Linked DNA regions of Homo sapiens. The protein of the gene in region 1 interacts with the protein of each later gene in a pairwise test. Each region holds a gene or a part of one and is shown in the gene's direction. Other genes may lie near its edges. The genes, in order: FNBP1L and USP13.

The links.
Region 2: the proteins of FNBP1L (region 1) and USP13 interact in a two-hybrid assay, tested with the Homo sapiens proteins (one large-scale study listed by BioGRID and IntAct).

What each region holds. Positions count from the first base shown.
Region 1 is NC_000001.11:93,450,976-93,454,802, forward strand, and holds part of FNBP1L (formin-binding protein 1-like), read left to right. Parts: intron 1-3,827. UniProt on the Homo sapiens protein: Required to coordinate membrane tubulation with reorganization of the actin cytoskeleton during endocytosis. May bind to lipids such as phosphatidylinositol 4,5-bisphosphate and phosphatidylserine and promote membrane invagination and the formation of tubules.
Region 2 is NC_000003.12:179,760,774-179,764,600, forward strand, and holds part of USP13 (ubiquitin carboxyl-terminal hydrolase 13), read left to right. Parts: intron 1-338; coding exon 339-482; intron 483-3,228; coding exon 3,229-3,395; intron 3,396-3,827. UniProt on the Homo sapiens protein: Deubiquitinase that mediates deubiquitination of target proteins such as BECN1, MITF, SKP2 and USP10 and is involved in various processes such as autophagy, endoplasmic reticulum-associated degradation (ERAD), cell cycle progression or DNA damage response.

The sequences.
Region 1 (3,827 bases):
TTAGGGGATATGAATTAACTTGTAATAAATTTGAGCTGTGCTTACAGGGATTTCTAGTGTTCCAAATGAGTAAATAAGTTAGTGAATATATACTACAGTCACAGTTTTGCATTGTATTCTGGGTAATACCAAGGAAAGAGATGATACTGTCTTCACTTCTTCAGGATGCGTGGTAACATCTTAGGCATTGCTTATTGTGTTCATTTCTTTATTACATAGCAAGAATGGATGGATCAGATAGCCAAATATGAATTAATAATTTCACAAAGCACAGATTTTGAAATTACTAGCTTTTTTTTAACAGATAGGGACATTAGAGATTGGAAAAGACCTATGTTTAGTAAATAAGTTTTACTTATTAAGAAATAGGTTTTTAGTTTTTGAGGACCTAGTTAAAGTTCGACAGAAAAAATCTGTGTATGGGTTGTGAATGTGTGTATAAATATGAAAAAAATATATGGCTGAGCACCTCACATTCATATGATTTACTGAAAAATTTGCTACCCAAGGAAAATGCTGGACAAGTCTGGTAGTTAGAAGATGGATTCAAATATCTGATTTAATTTATAAGTGCATATAAATCTTTTTTATGCCTTAATTTCTTGGTCGATATAATCTTTGGCCCTTAGTTTAAGAATGTGTAATTTAAAAGCCATTGTTATTTTCATCATATTATTTATATTATTATTATTTTTGAGATGGAGTCTCTTCTGTTGCCTAGCCTGGAGTGCAGTGGTGCGATCTCGGGTCACTGCAACCTCAGCCTCCCTGGTTCAAGCCATTCTCCCACCTCAGCCCCCCGAGTAGCTGGGATTTCAGGTGCACACCACCATGCCCGACTAATTTTTGTATTTTTAGTAGAAACAGGTTTTCACCACGTTGGCCAGGCTGGTCTTGAACTCCTGACATTGTGATCCGCCCGCCTCGGCCTCTCAAAGTGCTGGGTTTACAGGCGTGAGCCACCGTGCCCGGTCTTCATCATATTATTAACTAAATGCATTTGACAAAGCTTATATCTTTTTGGAAGAAACTGAAAAATGTGGGTTGAGTGATAGATTAGGTGGATAATTTATGTATTATCCTCAGTGTTAACCTTTTAATACTTTATTATCTTGGCTTCATAACACTTTATATAGCACTTAAATTTACATTGTAAGTGACTAGATTGTCCTTGAGTGTAGAAAGGCTGGATTCATCTTTGTTTTCACTGACCAAGACAATGCTTGTAGGTGATCATGCATGTTTTGCCCAATTGCATTAATAGTTGATTGCATTACCCAGAGTATTGATTACTAATTAGCAAGTGTATCTTTAGGGTTCTGAAGGCCTTTGTAGATGGTGATAGGTTAGGTGATCTGGATAACAGCTCAAGAAAGTCTAAAGCTGAAACCAAAATTATAAAGTTAAGTTTTACTACTTGGGTTAAACATTTTTGTCAAGTAAAATGGTAAAAGGATGGGGAAGAAAAGACCTACAGGTAATTTCTGGTGAATTTACTTGATTGATAGCTTGGTAATGTGACTGCCTAAATAATTGGTGAAATCTTAGGCCACATTAATAGATTTATCTGTAACAAAGGAATTGGGTCTCATAGTCTACTGGTTAGACCATATCTGTAATATATATGTATATTTTTAGAGATGGGGTCTTGCTATATTCTCAGGCCAGTCTTGAACTCTGTGCTCCACAATCGTCCTTCCTTAAGCTCTCAAGAAGCTGGGACTGTCTATAATATTGACTTTAATTTTACTTCACATTTTTTGGAGGGTGCTTGTCTAGAGGAGGTTGACAAAGAAAATTCATTATTAATGTAAACTGAATTGCTTCTCCAAAAGTAAATGAAAGGCCGTGAAACTGCTGTAGGAATTCAGTTTTGTTTTAAAAATACAATAATTTTGTGTCTATTATTTGGGAAGCACTGTTATGTTTGGTGAGATTTATGAAGGCTTATGATATTGGCCCTGCCCTGACAAAAGGTAGAGTTGCTTTGAGATGATATAACTTTACTGTAAACTCCAAAATACTTCCCTACATTGATACCACTGCCCAGAATGCCCTCTGTTGACCAATTCCTATCAACCCCATGCCTCCAGACTACCCATTCTGGATATTGTCTTATGGGACTACCACCTTATATTACGGTTATTATAGTTATTTCTTGTGTATTCAAATCTTAGGGAAATTGTCATGGTATAAATACTTAAATATCTTACATTCCCTTTTGTTGGTAGAAATTGTTGTGTTCAACATTGTATTACAGACGTTATTGCTATTAGTTAAGGAGGATGAGTGAGAGGTATCAAGATATCTGTTTATGTCACCATTCCATAATGACTATAATAAGTTGGAAGCTAGAGAGCTGCCTCTAACCAGTATCTCCTTTGCATAGCCACTCATACTCCATTTACTTCCATTTGCTTGCTTTCTTTGCCTTTTTCTTAAAATATTTGCTCTCTCTCCTTCCCCCACCCTATAAACCTATAAAATATGATTTTGGCTGGAAACTTTAAAAAAACCTATTCTACCAACTTTTTCCTCTGTCAGCTAGTTTGTAGAGAGGAAATAGTAAGAGAAATAGTAATGGCTTATAAATGTCAAATACCTTCTGTGTATATCAACAAGTGCTGTCTTATTTAATAATCTTCAATCTTTAAACATTTTCACTTCAATAGCAAAAAAAAATCTGTCTTGGGGAATATATCTATAGAATATTAAAAACTGGTAGGAAAGGTTATGTAAAGGTTTTGTTCTATAGAATGTGAAAGCCGTTCCATATTTCAGTTCAGGCCATGTCTATCTAATACACCTGAAACACGTAAACAGGACTGATGCTTGTTCATTCAACAGATGTTTATTTCATGCCTATTATGGCTTCAGCACTAAGCTAGGCTTTGTGGGGCATACTAAAAGAATCAATTAGATATCAGCATGAGCCTCAAAGCAACCCTAAAACAACTAGAAAGTAATAGATGGACTTTAGGGCTATGAAAAGTGACTTTTCATTCTAGGTATCACAGGAAAATCTTTAGGAAGACTGTCATTTGACCTAGGTTTTGGAATAAGAAGGGTTATGCAGGTGGGGGTTCCTGACAGGTTCCTAGAGGGCAGATATTGTGTCTTACTCATTGCTTATTCATTGTCTGATTCATTGCTGTATCCTGCCTGGATTAGCCTGACATTAGTAGGGTCTTTAATAAATGTTTGTTGGACTGACCTGAGTCTAGTGTTGCGTTTGACTTGAATTTGAGTGCACAATGTCTGAAAGTAGTGATGAAGGGTAGACTGGAACCAGGCAGGCAAAGAGGTTGGTCTGGCTGATTGCTTGATTCATGAACCTCTTGTGTGTGTGTATGGGTGTGTCTGTGTGTGTGTGTGTGTGTGTAGTTACACATTTGTATATAATCAAACCACTTTTCAGACCATTTAAAAATTCACAGAAGAAAATCTTAGTTTATTGGTAGAAGGGATTACCTCTTGCTTCTGAATACTTTGGTGGCAGGAGGGGAATACCTCTGGGTTTTAGAAGATGAAAGTGTATTTATTTTAGCGCCGCTGCAAGAATATTTGAAGGATGTTATTTCCTTTAATAATATGTTACTAATTTGAAATTAGTTTTATTTTTAAATATATATTATTACTACAGCTCGTTTATATTGTTTTTTATTTTCCCTTTATCTGTGACTGTATACTGTAGGCCCTCCATATCATTTGATTTCCACGTCTGTGGATTCAACCAACCATGGACTGGAAATACTAATTAAAACAATCATACAACAATAAAAATAATACAGATCTAAAAACAATACAGCATAACAACTATTTACACA
Region 2 (3,827 bases), on another chromosome or scaffold:
AGTCATAGGAGAGGCTGTCATAGAGGTCTTGAGAATGCTCTGAAATCGTTCTGGGAATACACTAAATCTCCCCATATGAAATTAGAGAATCGTTTTTCATTGCTTGCATTGTCCAGGTAATTAACCTGGTTCCTATGTGGGTCAAAGATATAAACTTAGCCCAAATAGCTTTAATATTTGTGTGGCTTAAAACAAAACTAAACAAAGTAAAACCATTATCTACACCCAACAGAATAGCACTTTCTTTGGGTAGCATGTGGATAGGAGAGTGGAGAGTAGCTAAGACAAGAAGCGACAGTTTCCTCTTTCACACTAGAATATCCTGTTGTGCTCTGTAGCATCAGACATCGATGAGTCATCAGTGATGCAGCTGGCCGAGATGGGTTTCCCGCTGGAAGCATGTCGCAAGGCTGTGTACTTCACTGGAAATATGGGCGCCGAGGTGGCCTTCAACTGGATCATTGTTCACATGGAAGAGCCAGGTAGGTGGCGAGAAAATGGAATGGCTTTGGAGTCTGATGTGACCCTCAGTGATGCTGAGTCCTGGTCCTTCCAAGGTCCCTGTGGATGTATCCCTAGAAAATGACTTTATAGTTCCTAATCTCCTGCAGTGGAGGAGAAAGCCAGTCTTTTTCTTCTTCTTTTTTTTTTTAAAAACAGCAGCTTTAGGCCAGGCGTGGGGGCTCATGCCTGTAATCCCAGCACTTTGGGAGGCCAAGGCAGGCGGATCACGAAGTCAAGAGATGAAGACCATCCTGGCCAACATAGTGAAACCCCATCTCTACTAAAGATACAAAAATTAGCTGGGCATGGTGGTGCGTACCTGTAGTCCCAGCTACTCAGGAGGCTGAGGCAGGAGAATCGCTTGAACGCAGGAGGCGGAGGCTGCAGTGAGCCAAGATTGCACCACTGCACTCTGGCCTGAGTGACAGAGCGAGACTCTGTCTCAAAAAAACAAACAAACAAAAAAACAACAAAAAAAACCCCAAACAGCTTTATTGAGATATAATTCATCCCTTTAAAGTGTATAAGTCAGTGGCAAAAAGACCAATAGAAAGATACGGGATATACTTCTAACTAAGCGATGATGAAAATTTGAAATGGAAACATGGGCATGAAGAAATGGAGGATGTTTAGTTAGCTTTTTCTTTTATCTACTTTATTAAGCTATAATGCATATATTCATCTGTTTAAAGTGTACATTTCAATGGTTTTTCATAAATTCACAGTTGTGTAACCATTACCACTATCAAATTTTAGAACATTTTGTACCCTTCAAAAGAAATCTCATACATAATAGCAGTCACTCCCCATTTTCCTGCTCACCCCAGCCCCTGGCAACCACGAATCTGTTTTCTGGATCAAGGGATTTGCCTGTTTTGGACATTTCATATAAATGGAGTCATATAATAAAAGGTCGTTTGTGTTTGGTTTCTATCACTTAGCATAGTGCTTTCAAGATTCATCTATGTTGTAGCATGTGTCAGTACTTCATTCCTTTTTACGGTAAAATAATAGTCTGTTGGGTCGGGTTTGGTGGCTTACGCCTGTAATCCCAGCACTTTGGAAGGCCAAGGCAGGAGGATCATTTGAGGTCAAGAGTTCAAGACCAGCCTGGCCAACATGGTGAAACCCCATCTCTATTAAAAATGCAAAAATTGTCTGGGCATGGTGGCGGGCACCTGGAGTCTCAGCTACTTGGGAGACTGAGGCAGGAGAATTGCTTGAGCCCAGGAGACGGAGGTTGCAGTGAGCTGAGATCACGCCACTGCCCTCCAGCCTGGGCAACAGAGTGAGACTCCATCTAAAATAATAATAATAATAACAATAATAATAGTCTATTTTATGGGTATACTATATTTTATTAATCTTTATCAGTTCATGGACATTTGGGTTATTTACATTTTTTGGCTTTTATGAACAATGCTGCTATAAACATTTTTTACAAGTTTTTGTGTGGATGGACATTTATTTTTACTTCTCTTGAGTGGAATTGCCATGTCATATGGTAACTCTATATTTAATTTTGAGGAACGACCAAACTGTTTTACACAGTGGCTGAACCATTTTACATTTCCACCAGTAATGAATGTGAGTTCCAATTTCTCCATATCATCACTAACCCTTATTATTATCTTTTTTATCATACCCATCCCAGTGGGTATGAAGTGGTATCTTGTGGTTTTGGTTTGCATTTTCCTAATGACTAATGATGTTGAACAACTTTTCGTATGTTTATTGACTGTATATCTTATTTGGAGATATGTCTATTCAAATTCTTTGCCCATTTCTAATGAAGTTATCCTTTTATTATTGAGTTCTAAGAGTTCTTTACAAATTCCAGATACGAGTTTCTATGAGATATATGATTTGTGTTTTCCCCCCCATTCTGGTGTTTTTTCACTTTCTTGATGGTATCCTTTGAAGCACAAACATTTTTAATTTTGATGATGTCCAATTTATCTTTTTTTTCTTTTATCACTTGTGCTTTTTGTGTTGTAAATAAGAAACCATTGCCTAATCCAATGGCAAAGACTTACTCCTGTGTTTTCTTCTAAGATTATTATAGTTTTAGCTCCTATATTTAGGTCAATGAGCCATTTTGAGTTAATTTTGTGTATGATGTGAGGTGAGGGTCTGACTTTATTCTTTTGTATGTGGATATCCAGTTGTCCCAGCATCATTTGTTGAAAATAATGTCCTTTCCCCACTGAATGGTCTTGTTGAAAATCAGTTAACCACAGGTATATGGTTTTATTTCTGGAATCTCAATTCTATTTAATCGATCCATATGTCTGCCTATATACCAGTACCAGACTGTCTTTTTTTTTGAGACAGAGCCTTGCTCTCTTGCCCAGGCTGGAGTGCAGTGGTGCAATCTCAGCTCACTGCAACCTCCGCCTCTTGGGTTCAAGCGATTCTTGTGCCTCAGCCTCCCAAGTAGCTGGATTACAGGTGTGCACCACCATGCCCTGCTAATTTTTGTATTTTTAGTAGAGACAGGATTTTGCCATGTTGGCCAGGCTGGCCACGAACTCCTGACCTCAGGCGATCCACTCGCCTTGGCCTCCCAAAGTGCTGGGATTACAGGCATGAGCCACTGCGCCTGGCCCAGACTGTCTTGATTATTATAACTTTGTAGAATCATGTTTTTCCTTGTTAGTGTTGTTTCAGGACAAAAAAAAAAAAAAAAAAAGGAAAAGACTTGGGTGTGGTTATTTTTCTCAGATTTTGCTGAGCCGCTGACCATGCCTGGTTATGGAGGGGCAGCTTCTGCTGGAGCCTCTGTTTTTGGTGCTTCTGGACTGGATAACCAACCTCCAGAGGAAATCGTAGCTATCATCACCTCCATGGGATTTCAGCGAAATCAGGCTATTCAGGCACTACGAGCAACGGTGAGCATGAGAGACTGTGTGTGTGTGTGTGTGTGTGTGTGTGTGTGAATTTATTTCTGTAGCAGTTGAGACTTTCCAATGTACTTTGATCATTTTGATTCATGTTTGATTCATCTAACTGTGAATCTCATCATAGCCCATAAAGATTTATTTGCATATTATAAATATAAAGCTAAAATGAATGATTTTCACACAGCGAATGAGATAAATAAATCTGGGGTAATATGAGCAAACTGAAAGAAACTTGATATCATCTTGAATGTTTGTTAACAGGGGGTCAGAAATTTGACTTGGAGGCTGCTTGTGGCCCTAGAGGAAAGAGGGATGCATGAAATTCCATGTTCAGTAAGAAGTCCTTTAGGAGATAGAATGCTTTTCTGATACCAAGACCTTGGGTAAATGTCTCTTAAAAGTCCTCATAGAAAACTGAAT